Linked DNA regions of Homo sapiens. The protein of the gene in region 1 interacts with the protein of each later gene in a pairwise test. Each region holds a gene or a part of one and is shown in the gene's direction. Other genes may lie near its edges.

Region 1 (5,105 bases):
GGCAGCTGGGAGCTCCACAGGCCTCAGCCCATGCAGGGATGGGCACGTCATCAGGACCCAGATGGCCACAGGTGGGAGTGAGGAGAGAGCAGGGGCTAGTGGCCAACAGGCAGGGCTCCTGTGAGGGGTCAGAAGATAAAGGTGGCTGCTGGGCTGGACCACCAGAAAGAGGTAGGGACTTAAGGCAGACGGTGGGGAGAGGTGTGTTGGAGGAAGAGGCAGCGGGTGTGAATGGGGCTGGACAGCGCCCAGAGGCGGGGAAGGACTGTGCCATGAGGACTGTCCCCCGAGGGCACCCAGTGTGCACCCTGGGGTCCCAGCCTCCCTAAGGGAGATCCCGCCCCCTCACTTCACAGTGGGAACCCTGGGGCACCCCACAGACTCCTCATCCTCATGGCCCCCACCCACTGGCCCAAGACCCAGGCAGCGCCGCGGTTCTCCAGCCCATCAGGCAGGCCTCGGCTAACCTCAGGGGACTTGAGCAAGCCACTTCATGCGCTGGCCTCCGTTTCCTCACCCGTAGTAAGGGTCTCACGAAAATCACCGAGTCTTGTGGTCAATGAATGGCTGAATCAAAACTTGCACCCGGGGTGCTGGGCCCGTGCAGGAGCCTCATGGGAGACTGTCCCCGAGGGCGTAGCACCTCGGCCAGGGGAGCTTCCCTGCTATCTTCTCCCTAGCCACCCATAAAGATGCCTGTGTCACTCCTGCATGGAGAGCATCAGGCACAACCCATCTTTTAGTCCCCCCGCCCCTGCCAGGTGCTGGGCTGGTCCAGGGACACAGAGCTGGGACACAGAGTCCTGTCCCATCTGGTGTGGGGGTAAACTCAGTGACTCCCCAGAGTTCCCACAGAGGGCCGCATGGAGGATACAGCCTCCAAGGGGGAGGGCAGTGGTTGCCCCGAAGGCAATGGGTCAGAGGAGGATTTGAGCTACAGCAGCATCAAAGCCAGGCTTCAGGCTCTAGAATAGGCTTGAAGGGCAGGGGCTGCCTGTTCCCTGCCTGTCTCTTGCCCTGCCCAGCCCCCACTGCTCCACCAGGGCAGCTCAGCAACCTCCCCTGCCTTTCCCCCCAGTTCCCTTCTGGGGGTGGGGGGAATTCCCATCCAGGCCTTTTAGAAGGGCTGAAACATTCAATGTAAATAATTAATGCTAGATTTTTAAAATTAAATTTTAATACATTCTTATTAATTTTAGACAAACTCCCTGGCAGGTCATTCGCCGTGAGTGATTGAGGTTGGCAACCAGAGACAGCCTTTGGGTGGGAAAGGCTCCTGAGCAGTGGGGTCCAGGCGCAGCTGGGCCCCTTCAGCTGCGGGATCTCCAGCAAGCCTCTTCTCTGTTGGAGCTTTGCTCCCGCATAGGGGGTCCGGGGCTTCCATGGCAGAGCTGTGGTGAGGAGCCGTGGGAAGCGCTATGATGTGTAAGGGGCGGTGGACGTTATTGTTATGACTACCGTGGCCATTCTGCTGAGGGTGGCCTCCCAGGACCGGAGGGGGGCGGAGGGGGTTTTCCTCATTAGCCCCTGGAGAGCAGAGCTTGCTTCCTCTGCTGTCCCCTCTCTGCTTTGTCTGCTGTCCCCTCTCTGCTGGAGAACTTAGCCCAGAGCTAGTGAACGAGTGGGTGTCCGTGGATGGAGGAACACTTGGATTTCTTGGGTTTGGTTTGATCCTGGTTCAGGTCTGACCCTCTGAGTGGACGGCTCCTCCCACCCTGCGCTGGCTCAGCGCAGGCCAAGCCTGCTGGGTGCTGGGGGTGTCCTGGTGAGAACACAGGGCTCCTGCCCGGGAGCTCACAGCCAGGAGGGGAAAGGGCCAGGAAAGACAGGCTCCAGTGCCGTAGGATCCAGGCATGCACTGTCCGTGTTTATTGAGCGCCTGCTGTATGCTGGGACCTAGCATGAGAAGCGCTGTCATGGGGACCCGGAAAGGTGGGCCTGGGGAAGAGAGCGGTGTGGGGGTCGCGCTGGCCGGCGGCAAAGTCTTCCCGGCAAACTCCTTGTCTTGCAGGAGGAGGGTTTATGGAGGGGTCCAGGCTTGTGGTCTTGGACAACTTTTAGAGCGTCTGGGGAGGGGAACCGCCATCCGGGCGCCTTAGGGATCCCTTCCCCTGAAATTCCTTCCCCCACCCCAGCCGATCCGCAGCCCGCGGGTGCGGAAGGGCAGTGGAGCGCCTCGTCCAGCTGCCTCCCCCTTCCCCCCAGCTTTCAGGTGAGGAAACTGAGGCCGGGAGAGCGCCGGAAGGCCGGCCCGAGCACCCGGGAAGTTGGTGGCCGAGCCTGGCCGAGGCCCCGGGGCCGGGCCTTCTAGCTTGGCGCTGCGGCCGGGCTGCGCCCTCGCCCGGCGGGGCGGTGGGGGAGGCGGCGTGGGGCCCGGACCCGAGCGGAGCGCGCTCCCGGCGGACGCGGCGGCGGCGCCCGGCGCGAGGGGCCGGGATGGGCAGTCATCAGTCTTCCCAGGTCTGTCGCGTGGTCCCTGAGCTCGGACCCCTGTCCCCCTTGAGTGCCAGTCACGGCACAGAAAGACGGGCAAAGCCCCGGGGAGCGGCCTCTCCCGGGTGATAGAGAGCCCGCCCGGCGCCCCCAGCTCCACGCAGGAAGTGCGATCCCGCCCGGGCCGCTCGCGGTCCCCGTCGCTCGCCCGCGCCCACAAGGTTAACGGCGGCGGGTGGGTCCCCCTGCCCGGCGCGCGGAGGGGCTGCCCGGCTGAGCGGGGCTGGGCAGGGAGGGTCTCCAAGCCGCGCGCGGGCGGGTCTGCGCAAGCAAGGCAGGGAGCCCCGCCGGCGAGCCGGGCGCTCACGGGTTAATCCCTGGGGCCCGGGAGGGGCAAGCCAGGCCCAAAACCCCAGAATCTGAGGGCAGCGGGTCCCTGATTGAGGAGTCGAGGCTCCAAATGCCATCGCCCTCGGATTGTGTGAGTGTCAGGTTCTGCAATCCTGCACGGCCCCGAATTCCCCAACATTCTCCGACTCGGAGGTTCTGCGATTCCGGGGTTCGGCTTCCTCCGGGAGGGAGCGCGGGGCAGGAAGGGTTAACGGGCGGGGCGGGGGGAGCAGCGGGGCCGCGGCCGCCGGAGAGTTAACGGGGACAGGCCGAGTCCCCCTCCTCCGGGCGAGGCCGAGATCGCCCCTGGCCGGGCCATCCCGGGCCGGCCCCTTCTTCGCCCCGGGGGGCGTAACTCGGTGCGGGGAGCGCGGCGGCCCGGGCGGGCTCACCTGTTACTCGGCCGCGGCCCGGCGCGCCCACTGAGTCACGGGGGCCGCGGCCGGGACTGGAAGCTGGGGACGCGCGGCGCCGGGCTTCCCACGGACGGGGCCCCGCGGGGTTGCCCGGCCGTGCCCGCTGTGCCCGGCTCTGCCCGGCGCGGCCGCGGAGCGCACGCCTCCTGCCTGCTGACCCTCTCGTTTGGTTTCTCGCAGGCCTCTGCCGCAGACATGGAGAAACTCAGGTGAGTGGAGCGTCTCCCGTGCCGCGGCTCGCGGGGGCCGGGTCGGGGGTGAGGGCGCTGGGGAAGGCGGGGGAAGGGGGCTCCACCCGAGCGCATCCCCCAGGGCCCGCGGGCGGCCTCGGCGGGGCTGCGGGCCAGGTGCGTGTGTGTGGTGCGTGTGTGCGCGCCGCGAGGCGCTGGGGAGCCTCGCGCGGGGCTCCTCCGCCGGCCCGGGCCGCTGCGGCGGGGGCTGGGGCTAGCGCCACTGAGGGCCGGGCTGCCCCCTACCCGGGGCCGCCTGGTCCTGTGCGGTCCTCAGCGCCCCTCTGGCTCCCTGCCCTGGACTCTCGCTGGTCCCCGGGGACCCTCCGGGTTCCGTTCGTGCCGTTCCGCACTGCCCCGGCGCTCTCTCCCCCGACCCCACCCCACCCCCAACCACCACCCGCCCCAGCCCCCGGGCTGCCAGTTGCCTGGCTCTGAGCTTTTAAGTGTCCGCCTCTGGGGGGCGGGGGTGGGGGATGGAGTCCTCGCGGCTGGACCAGGCAGCCGCGTCTTGGAGCCATTTTGGGGGAATCCCGCGACAGCTTCTGGGGAGTGTCCCCCGCGGCCTCCCTCCCGGTGCCAAACTTTAAGCCTTGGTAGACTTCACGGGACCACCTGCGCGGCAGGCCTGGGATCAGCCAGTTTGAATATTTGCCACTTCCTCCACGACTTCCCCTGGCACCCTGACCCCTACTTTGGGAACACCCCTCCCGTGTTTTCCTTCCGGAGCCTGAGCCGAGGCGTTGTGTGGGCGGCAGGCCCAGCTCTGGCTGCTGGGTTTCAGCACTGTCTCCCCTGGCCCACAGGGTCTCCGTCCTCGCCACTCCCTCCCGAGGCCAGAATTGGCATCCTGGGGAGGAGGCCGGGTAGAGGAGCATCCCTCCCCCAAGGAGCAGAGCCCAGCCTGGGCCCAGGTCTAGGGCAGAGGGGCCCTGGGCTCTGCCAGCTGACCCTTAGTGCCGTGGGTGAGTGGCTTGGAAACACCCAGGTGGGAGCCTGGGGGCAGGTGGGCTCACACAGAGACCCAGGGTGGACTCTCAGAGCAGGGCCATCTCCTGGGCCATGGAGCTGATGTGCAGCCCCCACTGTGGGTCCCACAGGGACAGGACCAACATGTCTTGTGCTGGGAGGAGGGGTCCAGTCTCTGAGGTGGTTCAATCTCAGACCCCAAATACCTGATACCCATCAGCCAGGCCCACCTTGTCGTGGCCAAGGTCCAGGTGGGGGCGGTGAGGCCCAAAGAGCGACAGCCCTGGCTGTGGTCACACAGATGACCTCAGGCCCAAACTCAGGCTCTGGCCCAGGCCAGGGCCCTTCCCTGGTGCCCCACATTGGCTGTCATTTCACCACCTGGGTTGTACCGCCTGTGGGGGGGAGGAAACACTGCTTAACTCAGCTGAGACTTGAGGAAAAACTTAGCATTCATGGGGTGCCCTGAGGCCAGCCTGGGGGTTCCCTGCGGTGGTTCTCTTTCTCTTTCCCTCCTTCCCTGTGCCCGGCCAAGGCTCTCCGGCACCTATTCCTGTGTGCCAGGCACTGAGGACAGAGGCATGACCCCGCCCGGCTGGGTGCACAGGTAGGCAGGTGTGCCAGGTGGGCGGATCTGCTGCCTGAGCTGCTGATGGCGTCAGCGTTG
Region 2 (3,500 bases), on another chromosome or scaffold:
AACCCGGGAGGTGGAGGTTGCAGTGAGCCAAGATCGCACCACTGCACTCCAGCCTGGGCAACAGAGAGAGGCCCTGTCTCAAAAAAAAAAAAAAAAAAAAAAAAAAACAAAAAAGCCCAAAAAAACAGAATGTGTGTAAGGCCTGAAAAGCACTTGGCCCAGTGGCTGGCACTCGGGATATTGTTACGCCCCAGGGTAGTGGCTCTGCAGTGTGCCTCATGACTCGTGAGGCTGGCCCCCATCCCACCCTGTTCAGCCCTGCAGGTGGAGGTGGGTGGCTGGGGCATTGCTGCCACAGCCCGCCCTCTCTCCCATGGGTGAGGGAGGCGGTGTGTCAGAGGCACAAGGGGATGCACGTTAGCTGGTTCTGAATACGCTTGGGGAGGCAACGGAGGCTGGGCCACCTGGTTTGGATTTTGTCTTAATGAAGTCAGGGAAGAAATTGCCACCTAGAGGCAGCCGGGGTAATAAAGCCATAGCCCCTGTGCAAGTCCTCAAAGCTTCATGCAGGCTGGCTGGCAATGGCTTCCTTCCACTTCCCTGCTGAGCAGATGCCTGCCCCAAAAGCCACTGTGGGGATAGGGGAGCCTCCGGTGGGGTATTGGGCCCCTTCCAGAAGAGAATCTTTGGGCGGCTTTTGGTAAGGAAGGAGCGTAGCCACTGCCCCGAGCCAGGCCTTCCCCTCTGCAGGGCAGGCGTTTTTTGGGTGTGTGAGCCCCTCCTGGCCACATCTGGACCAGCCAGGGATGTGTGAAAGCTGAGCTCAGCTGCGGCCCTGGCCAGTGGTCCATGGCTAGCAGTCTTTGGCCAGTGGTCGGAGTGTCTCACCTATCTCTCTGTCCTGGGACAGGGCGTGGAAAAGATACCCCAGTCTGCGGTGACGAGGACTCCAGTGCCCGAAGTGCAGCTCGCCCAGCCCTAGCTCAGTGCCGAGCCCTTAGCGTGGACTGGGCTGGCCCCGGAAGCCCCCACGGGCTCTACCTGACCCTGCAGGTAAGCACTGGGGCCTTCCAGGCTGCATGTGCCTTGGCTCTCTGAGCTCCAGTGGCTGGGTTCCTGCCAGGCTTCTGGGGGTAGGAAGCACCTGGGGAGAGCCGGGGACCCACCTCGCACCTCTCTGTTGGGCCCCTCATGACCCCTCTGCCTGGGAGCCTGCTTTATTAAGTCAGACGGGAAATCTCATAGGAGCTGACAGGAGCTTTTCAGCCATGCCCTGGCTGAGGTGTTAAAATGGGAAGCATGGGGCCTTAGCTGAGATGGGCAGAGCTTGGAGAAGGTATTGGGAAAACAGGCAGGTTTGGGGTGGTTGATTATTCTGAAACATGGTTATGTGAGTATTTCCTTGTATTTCCTTGGGAATATTTCCTTGTTTGAAGTGAGAATTCAAAGCTAGATGGAGGATTCACTAAAACTTGGGGTCTTCTCCCTTGCAGTTATCACCAAGTGACTTTAAAATGACAAAGTAAGGCTAGGCGCGGTGGCTCAGGCCTGTAATCTCACCACTTTGGGAGGCTGAGATAGGAGGATCGCTTGAGCCCAGGAGTTCACGACCAGCCTGGACAATATAGTGAGACCCTATCTCTACAAAAAGAAAAATAAAAAATTAGCTGGGCATGGTGGTTCCTATAGTCCCAGCTACTCAGGAGGCTGGGGTGGGAGGATCGCTTGAGCCCAGGAGGTTGAGGCTGCAGTGATTGCACCACTGCACTCCAGCCTGCGTGACAGAGTGAGACCCTGTCTCAAAAAAAAAAAAAGAAAAGAAAAAAGATAAACTTTACATATGTATGTATATTTGGCTATAGAAATAATACATAACGATAATAGTAATAAGAGCTACTGTTTATCAAACATGGACTCTGTGCCAGGCATTAAAAGATCTCATGTTAGTCCTCATCATACTCATAACAATCTCAGGATACAGTATTTGATCTGAGCTTTATAGATGAGGATGTGGAGGCTCAGAGAGGTTAAGTTACTCGCTGCTGGTCACATATTCGACCATTCAACACAACTAGCCTTGTAACAGGGCAGAGATACAGTTATCCAGAAACTGCCTCTCTTAGTCCTCTATCTTTGAGAAATCCACTATTAAGTATTTGGTGTTTATTTGTTTATCTTTCCTATATAGAACCACTTAATTAAATTTATATGATTTTTATTTTTGAGATGGAGTCTCGTTCACTCTGTTGCCCAGGCTGGAGTGCAGTGGCGTGATCTTGGCTGTAATATCCGCCTCCCGGGTTCAAGTGATTCTCCTACCTCAGCCTCCTGAGTAGCTGGGATTACAGGTGTGCATCATCACACCTGGCTAATTTTTATATTTTTAGTAGAGATAAGGTTTCACCATTTCACCATGTTGGCCAGGCTGGTCTTGAACTCTTTTTTTGTTTTTTTTTTTTGAGACAGAGTCTCGCTCTGTCGCCCAGGCTGGAGTGCAATGGCATGATCTCAGCTCACTGCAGCCTCCGCCTCCCGGATTCCAGTGATTCTCCTGTCTCAGCCTCCCAAGTAGCTGGGATTACAGGCGTGTGCCACCGTGCCCAGCTAATGTTTGTATTTTTAGTAGAGACAGGGTTTCATCATGTTGGCCAGGCTGGTCTTGAACTCCTAACCTCGAGTGATCTGCCCGCCCCAGCCTCCCAAAGTGCTGGGATTACAGGTGTGAGCCAGTGCACCCAGCCATATTTATATGATTTTTTTTTTTTTGAGACAGAGTCTCACTCTGTTGCCCAGGTTGGAGTGCAGTGGCATGATTGCAGCCCACTGCAACCTTCACCTCCCAGGTTCAAGCGATTCTCATGCCTCAGCCTCCCGAATAGCTGGACTACAGGCATGTGCCACCACACCTGGCTAATTTTTGTATTTTTAGTAGAGATGGGGTTTCACCATGTTGGCCAGGCTGGTCTTGAACTCCTTACCTCAAGTGATCTACCCGCCTCAACCTCCCAAAGTGCTGGGATTACAGGCATGAGCCACAGTTCCCAGTGCATATTTATATGATTTTTATTATTTATTTTACATGTTATTCTGTCACTAGCTCTTTCCCTCAAGTAAGTCCTGGTAATCTCTTCATGCTCATCAACACATAGAGAACTACCCTTTTTTTTTTTTTTTTTTTTTTTTTTTGAGCAAGGTCTGGCTCTGTTGCCCAGGCTGGAATGCAGTGGTAGAATCTCACTGCAACCTCCAGCCAAGTCATCTCACCTCAGCCTCCTGAGTAGCTGGGACTACTGGCATGTGCCACCACACCTGGCTAATTTTTGTAATTTTTGTAGAGACGGAGGTTTCATCATGTTGCCCAGGCTGGTCCCGAACTTGTGGGCTCTGCCTTGGCTTCCCAAAGTGCTGGGATTACAGATGTGAGCCATTACGCCCGGCCCTACCTCTTTCTTTTACACGGCTGCGTAATAGTCTACTTCAGGGCTTACCATAAATTATTTATAACAGATCCTCTGTATTGTTTCTGATTGCAGTGAGCTCCTTAAACAAATATCTGTGCT
Region 3 (3,859 bases), on another chromosome or scaffold:
CCAAAGAGTTCTGTCACCACCACCCAGGTTGCTTTTCCCATCCAAGGTGGGCGTGGCTTGGGACCTCCTCCCCGGCCCGATAGGCCCCTTGAGAGACTCTTGGGGGCAACCTCCCTTTCTACTTAGAGTCCTGTGTAGCCACGTTTGGCTGTGTTGTTGACATCGGGTTCACCATCGTGCCCCTTAGGACCTTGAGTCCTGCCTTTTAGAGTTCCTCCGTCACATGGGCTTTGGGAGGGAACATCGTATCCGAACTCTCCCAGCACTTAACGGCCCCCATGCCGGTGTCCCCTCTTTGGAATCCTTATTCAGCTCTGAATTCACAATCCGTCTCAATGTTGACGTGGGATCGGTGCCTGTGGCTTCAGCTCACTCACTGACATCACTTCCTTTCCACCCACAGCTCAAGTGCAAAAACTGTGAGGCCTTTGGCCACACGGCCAGAAGTACCAGGTGCCCCATGAAGTGCTGGAAGGCAGCCCTGGTTCCACCGAACTTTGGGGAAAAGGAAGGGAAGGAAAACCTGAAACCATGGAAGCCCCAGGTTGAAGCGAACCCTGGGCCCTTGAACAAGGATAAGGGAGAGAAGGAAGAGAGACCAAGGTGAGCAGTGGGAGTGGTTTTCACCACTCTTAGGGTACTGCCTCCTAAGGACATGGTGTCTCTGCACCTGCACACCGTGTGCCTTTCCGTCTCCGGGCCAGGGAAGGAACGCTGCAGAGAAACAGACCGGAGCTCTGTGTCTTCCGGAGTTCCACACCCAAGAGCTCCTTTGGCTCTGGGAGATTCAGGGACGGGGAGGGGCGGGGGCGCTTCGTGCAGGTTCCCCACGACAGGGGGAAAAGTGATGGAATCCAAATCACAGTCCTTAGTTGGGAAGCCTAGAGGGCCACCTGGAGGATGGGAAGGTTGGCACGTGAGGGAAGGTGCAGAGGCGGAAAGGGCACCAGATGTCCATTTCTGTATCACAAAACACGGAATGGGACTGGGCCCCAGACAGGGTTCTCCCCGTCTCCTGGGGAAAACCAGGGAGGACGGCCTGACCTTTTTCTGTTCTGCAGGCCACAAGACCCGCAGAGGAAGGCTCTCCTCCACATATTTTCCAGGAAACCTCCAGAGAAGCCGCTGCCAAATCAAAAAGGATCCACGGAATCTTCTGATTATCTGAGGGTGAGGGTCACCCTGGGCCCCTGGTCTTTTTCTCCTCTAGGTCACCCTGGTTGATTTCCTTTCAGCTTCCCGTCTGCGGGAGGGAATCGGGGAACCCCTCTTTCTTGCCTTCTTGGGGTCAGACACTCCACGATCCTTCCAGGTCAATTTGATTCCAGGCGAAGGCATCTGAAGATGCCGTATTTCCTGTTGCTTTCTTTCTGTCCAATTATGGCAAGCCTGCCAACAACACGTTCCTAGCGGCATGAGGAAATTAGTCCCTCAGAGGCCCCAAACGTGGAGAAGGCTAAACCCAGGAACATGCATATGTTCAGAGAAGACGTCCTGAGTACCCTTGAGCCACCAACCTGCCTTCGGAAGGGCATCAGTCGGTTCCACTTCATGGAAGGCTGAGTGGAGGCGCTTTGATCCAGCTAATGCCTAAGACGCAATCTTTTGAACAATGGTGTGCTTAGATCAGCTACACATAGCTCGAGAGCGCATCTTTCATGTGTCTTGTCCTGATCAGCACTCAGGTGGAGGGTCTGTCCCTACTTCCAAGGACCGCCTGTCGATAGTGTACTAAGAATTTCATGGCGTGTGCACCTTGTCTTTGGATGTGGTTGATTTTCATGTTGGCTCCATGCTGAGGAACTTCTAACCTGTGTTGTTTCCTCTCTTTCAGGTTGCAAGCGGGCCAATGCCGGTCCACACAACCAGTAAGAGGCCGCGTGTGGACCCTGTCCTCTCTGATCGCTCAGCTACCGAAATGTCTGACAGGGGCTCCGTCTTAGCTTCACTGTCTCCCCTCAGAAAAGCCAGTCTGAGCTCCTCCTCAAGTCTTGGACCAAAGGAAAGACAGACAGGGGCTGCGGCCGACATCCCTCAGACTGCAGTCAGGCACCAGGGCCCCGAGCCTCTCCTCGTGGTGAAGCCGACACACAGCAGCCCTGCGGGTGGCTGTCGAGAAGTTCCCCAGGCTGCCTCCAAAACCCACGGCCTGCTCCAGGCCGTCAGCCCCCAGGCACAAGACAAACGTCCTGCGGTGACCTCACAGCCCTGCCCACCAGCCGCCACACACAGCTTGGGCCTAGGCTCCAATCTCAGCTTCGGGCCAGGAGCCAAGAGATCTGCCCCGGCTCCGATTCAGGCTTGCCTGAACTTCCCCAAGAAACCGAGACTGGGTCCCTTCCAGATCCCCGAAAGCGCCATCCAGGGAGGTGAGCTGGGGGCCCCGGAGAATCTCCAACCTCCGCCAGCCGCAACCGAACTTGGACCACGTACGTCACCCCAGACAGGCACGAGGACACCCGCCCAGGTGCTTAGCGGCGACCGGCAGCCTCCGCACAGCAGACCTTGCCTGCCTACTGCCCAGGCCTGCACCATGTCCCATCACCCAGCGGCCAGCCATGATGGGGCCCAGCCTCTCAGAGTGCTCTTTCGGAGACTGGAAAACGGACGCTGGAGCTCCAGCCTGCTGACGGCCCCCTCATTTCACTCTCCTGAGAAGCCGGGAGCCTTCCTCGCTCAGAGCCCTCATGTCTCAGAGAAGTCTGAGGGTCCCTGTGTTCGTGTCCCACCAAGCGTCCTCTATGAGGACCTTCAGGTTCCCTCCTCCTCAGAGGACAGCGATTCTGACCTGGAGTGAGACTGCAGGTGGCAGGGGCTCCTTGGCCTCCAGCTCCCGTGACTTGGAGGGGACTGTGGGACTGAGGAGCACAGAGCAGAGAGCAGACTCTGTGCGGTGACTCCGAAGCTCCCCGGCTGTGGCCCTTCTGTGGATGTGGGAGCCCAGGCCAGGCAGGGAGCAGATGCAGGGACTCTGCCACGTTGAATTCTGGTGAGGGACATTGTAGTTCGCATGGTTCTCTGGAAACGCGCCAGGAAAAGCTTCCGTGCCAGTGATTCGTTGCCTCAGAAACTGCATGACGCGCAGGAGTCAGACTTCCGCTGGGACGTCAATAGGAAACGGGGGAATTACTGTGTATTTGCTCTCTAGACGACTGAATAAGGGAAAAGTTAGGGAACCCTGAGAGGTGCAGCCCTTCCGCTGTGCCCCGCCCTGAGAGCAGTGTTTCGGACGCTGGGAAGCGCGCTGTGCAAAGCGCTCTCGGGGTCTTTCCTCAGCCTCGAAAAGTGGGCTCTGGAATCCCTTTGTAAATAGGTGTGTTGAATTTGTTTTGAAGTGAATAAAATTCTCAAAAAGATGACATATTGTCTTTTGACTTTCATTCCGTGTTTGTGTTTAACTGATTTTCCAAGTGAAGGGGTGGCCTGCCCCTCCACACCTGTGGGTGTTTCTAGTCGGGTGGGATGAGAGACGGAGAAAAGAAATAAGACACAGAGACAAAGTATAGGGAAACAACACTGGGTCCAGGGGACCGGCACTCAGCACACCAAGGACCTGCACCGGCACCGGCCTCTGAGTTCCCTCAGTTTTTTTTATTATGATTTTCATTACTTCAGCAAAAAGGAATGTAGTAGGAGAGCAGGGTGATAAGAAGGAGAAGGTCAACAAAAAAAACATGTGAGCAAAAGAATCTATATCATAATTAAGTTCAAGGGAAGGTACTATGCCTGGACGTGCACGTAGGCCAGATTTATGTTTCTCTCCACCCAAATATCTCAGTGGAGTAAAGAATAACAAGGCAGCACTACTGCCAACATGTCTCGCCTCCCGCCACAGGGCAGCTTTTCTCCTAGCTCAGAG
Region 4 (2,322 bases), on another chromosome or scaffold:
CTTCACCAGGTCCAATCACCTCCAACGACACCGAGCCAAGCACGGCACCTGCAAGAAGGAGCCCATCCCTTCCTCCTCTGACGAGTGAAGATAGCATCGTCGACCTCACTACTTGGAACCTTCCCAGGTGGGCCCACTCACATGGTATTGCCAGCCTCACTGGTCAGCCTCGCCTCCCAGCAGGTCGCGGGTCATCAGTGGTCCATTTGATTATTTATTTGATCCCTTGAACAGAAAGTCACCACCGAGAGAGCACCCAGGTGGGTGGTTTCACATCAGTGGTTCTGAGTGTCCGAGGTCATAAGCAATTGGAAAAGGGAAAGACAAAGTAGTGGGAGCTGATCAAACGTTGAGTTCCTTGGGTTGGGGAACCTGAATCAATCAGAAACTGCTTCTAGAATTACATGCTGGGCACTGGGCCGGGCTCCAGGGATAAGGTGGGGAAAAAGACTAACCTGTCCTACCCTCAAAGCCATATGCAAATACTGAAAAGAAGGCCTGAGGGGCTGGTCCTCTTTAGAGAAAGATGCTTTTTGGTTTTTATATAAATAAAGGAATCCCCAGAAGTGGTCCCTATGATGAACTCCCCCAAAGCAACGCCGTTTTTGGAGGAACTCAAACCCAGTCCAACATCCCATCATTTCACTTGACTGCAGAAATGGCTTTACCCTTAGGATATATCTTTATGAGTCTTGGCTTTGAAGTGGAGAAGGGCTTTATCTTAGAGAAGGTGGTTTATGTCATATTCCAGTTATTCTAGAAGTTCAGGACAGCCTTAGCATCTGAAAAAGAAGCCCATTCCTCTTTATAGTGGAATTTAGTAAGTAGATCTAACCCGAGTCTCACCCACAGAATTCATATAAATTCATATATGCCTTCTCTCTGGCTGCCTCTTTTCCTGTTTGCACTCTGAGGGCTTAAGTCATATGTGATATTTACAAAGCAATTGGCCCATTTACAGAGAGACATATATAATTTCTCCACAAAGCCTTGACCATGGTTCATGAAACCGTTTGGGTTCATTTAAATTTGTCTGAATCATTAGTCTTGACTTGAAGTGAACAAAACACCCTTTGCCCAAGTGCCATTGGCTTGTCTGCATTTCAAAATCATTAAAACCAGGTATGGAAGCCTACGTGCTCACAGTTATCTAATGAGGTTATTTCAAAGTTTGCATTACTAACAGCCATTCTGCAAAGTGTATTGATGTGTATAGTGATCTGTATAAAGTCAGTAGTTCTTAGCTGAACCTCAACTGTGAGGAATCTATGACTCCACAGATGTCCTTGGTGCACATAGGCAAACGGCACTTCTCATCTTACTGAAGTTAAATAAGATATTCCATAAGAAGGTATAGTGCCCTTTTTGGGGGAGTACCTTTAGTATATTCCTAAAATTGCCACCAAAGAATGCCAAATCTGAATTTCTCTTGGTTTCCACCTGATTTGGAACTAGGGTGTGACCTCTAAATAGCATTCTCATGACACATGGGGGCGCCAAAGAGAAGTAAGAGAGATAGCTAGATAGCTAGATAGCTAGATAGTCTTGTGTCTTGTTTGACCAAGGTAACCGTAATAAAAGAGTCCATCCCCATCCTTTACTGTTGATGTGACCTTGGGCTTCAGTTTCTGCATCTGCATTGGCAAAATAGAAGTGATAGTAGTAGGTAAAAGTTAGAGTGATCCTACTATATGACGGAAACTTTGGCTGGATGCAAGAGCTTTAAATTGGTAGAAAAGTCACAAGATGAGCTTGTGACTATGAAGAGAGCAAAAGCTAACTTTTTTTTCCTAGATAATCAATAAAATATTTGAAGACTGAAGGATTACTCCTTTTCATTGTATCCTTTCTTGAAGATGGTCATTAGTATAGTTTTTACAAATTAAAAAAATTGGTTTTGTTTTATAATTTTTATGGAGTTGTTCGCCAAAACCTGGTTGCATAGGAGTCACCTGCGCTGTTTGTTAACCATATAACTTGCTGAACCCTAACCTTGAATACTGATAAAGGTCTGCAGTGTGGTATCTAGGTATGGCTTCCACATGGGCATAGCTTTGGAGAAGGAGTGAGCGTACTTGTTAATAGGCAGAAACGCTGGATTTGCTTGTGCTGGGTATCTTTGGTGCTGTATACTATGTTTCTGGAATATAAGGGGTAGAATGTACTGAACAGGTCCAAGAGAAGTTCATTAGTCCTTCAGGCCTTTCACAAAACAACTCAGATTTTAAGGAAAATTGTCCCAACCAGTCTTTTCTCACATCAACTGCAAGGGTCATTCTGAGTAGGTATTAGAGAAGAAAGGAATCCCATTGGAACCAGTAG

What was found. Proteins that work in one complex are often made in the same cells at the same time.
Region 2: the proteins of BEGAIN (region 1) and KIFC3 interact in binary tests that used the Homo sapiens proteins (3 or more experiments, as listed by UniProt).
Region 3: the proteins of BEGAIN (region 1) and FAM90A1 interact in binary tests that used the Homo sapiens proteins (3 or more experiments, as listed by UniProt).
Region 4: the proteins of BEGAIN (region 1) and ZNF648 interact in binary tests that used the Homo sapiens proteins (3 or more experiments, as listed by UniProt).

Annotation. Positions count from the first base shown.
Region 1 is NC_000014.9:100,566,254-100,571,358, reverse strand, and holds part of BEGAIN (brain-enriched guanylate kinase-associated protein), read left to right. Parts: intron 1-1,566; exon of another isoform or gene 1,567-2,212; intron 2,213-2,381; exon of another isoform or gene 2,382-2,436; coding exon of another isoform or gene 2,437-2,460; exon of another isoform or gene 2,461-2,668; intron 2,669-2,865; exon of another isoform or gene 2,866-2,893; coding exon of another isoform or gene 2,894-2,914; intron 2,915-3,057; exon of another isoform or gene 3,058-3,419; coding exon 3,420-3,448; intron 3,449-4,275; exon of another isoform or gene 4,276-4,434; intron 4,435-5,105. UniProt on the Homo sapiens protein: May sustain the structure of the postsynaptic density (PSD).
Region 2 is NC_000016.10:57,792,492-57,795,991, reverse strand, and holds part of KIFC3 (kinesin-like protein KIFC3), read left to right. Parts: intron 1-850; coding exon 851-993; intron 994-3,500. UniProt on the Homo sapiens protein: Minus-end microtubule-dependent motor protein. Involved in apically targeted transport. Required for zonula adherens maintenance.
Region 3 is NC_000012.12:8,220,760-8,224,618, reverse strand, and holds the end of FAM90A1 (protein FAM90A1), read left to right. Parts: intron 1-403; coding exon 404-603; intron 604-1,061; coding exon 1,062-1,170; intron 1,171-1,834; coding exon 1,835-2,797; 3' UTR 2,798-3,359; downstream 3,360-3,859.
Region 4 is NC_000001.11:182,054,070-182,056,391, reverse strand, and holds the end of ZNF648 (zinc finger protein 648), read left to right. Parts: coding exon 1-88; 3' UTR 89-1,822; downstream 1,823-2,322. UniProt on the Homo sapiens protein: May be involved in transcriptional regulation.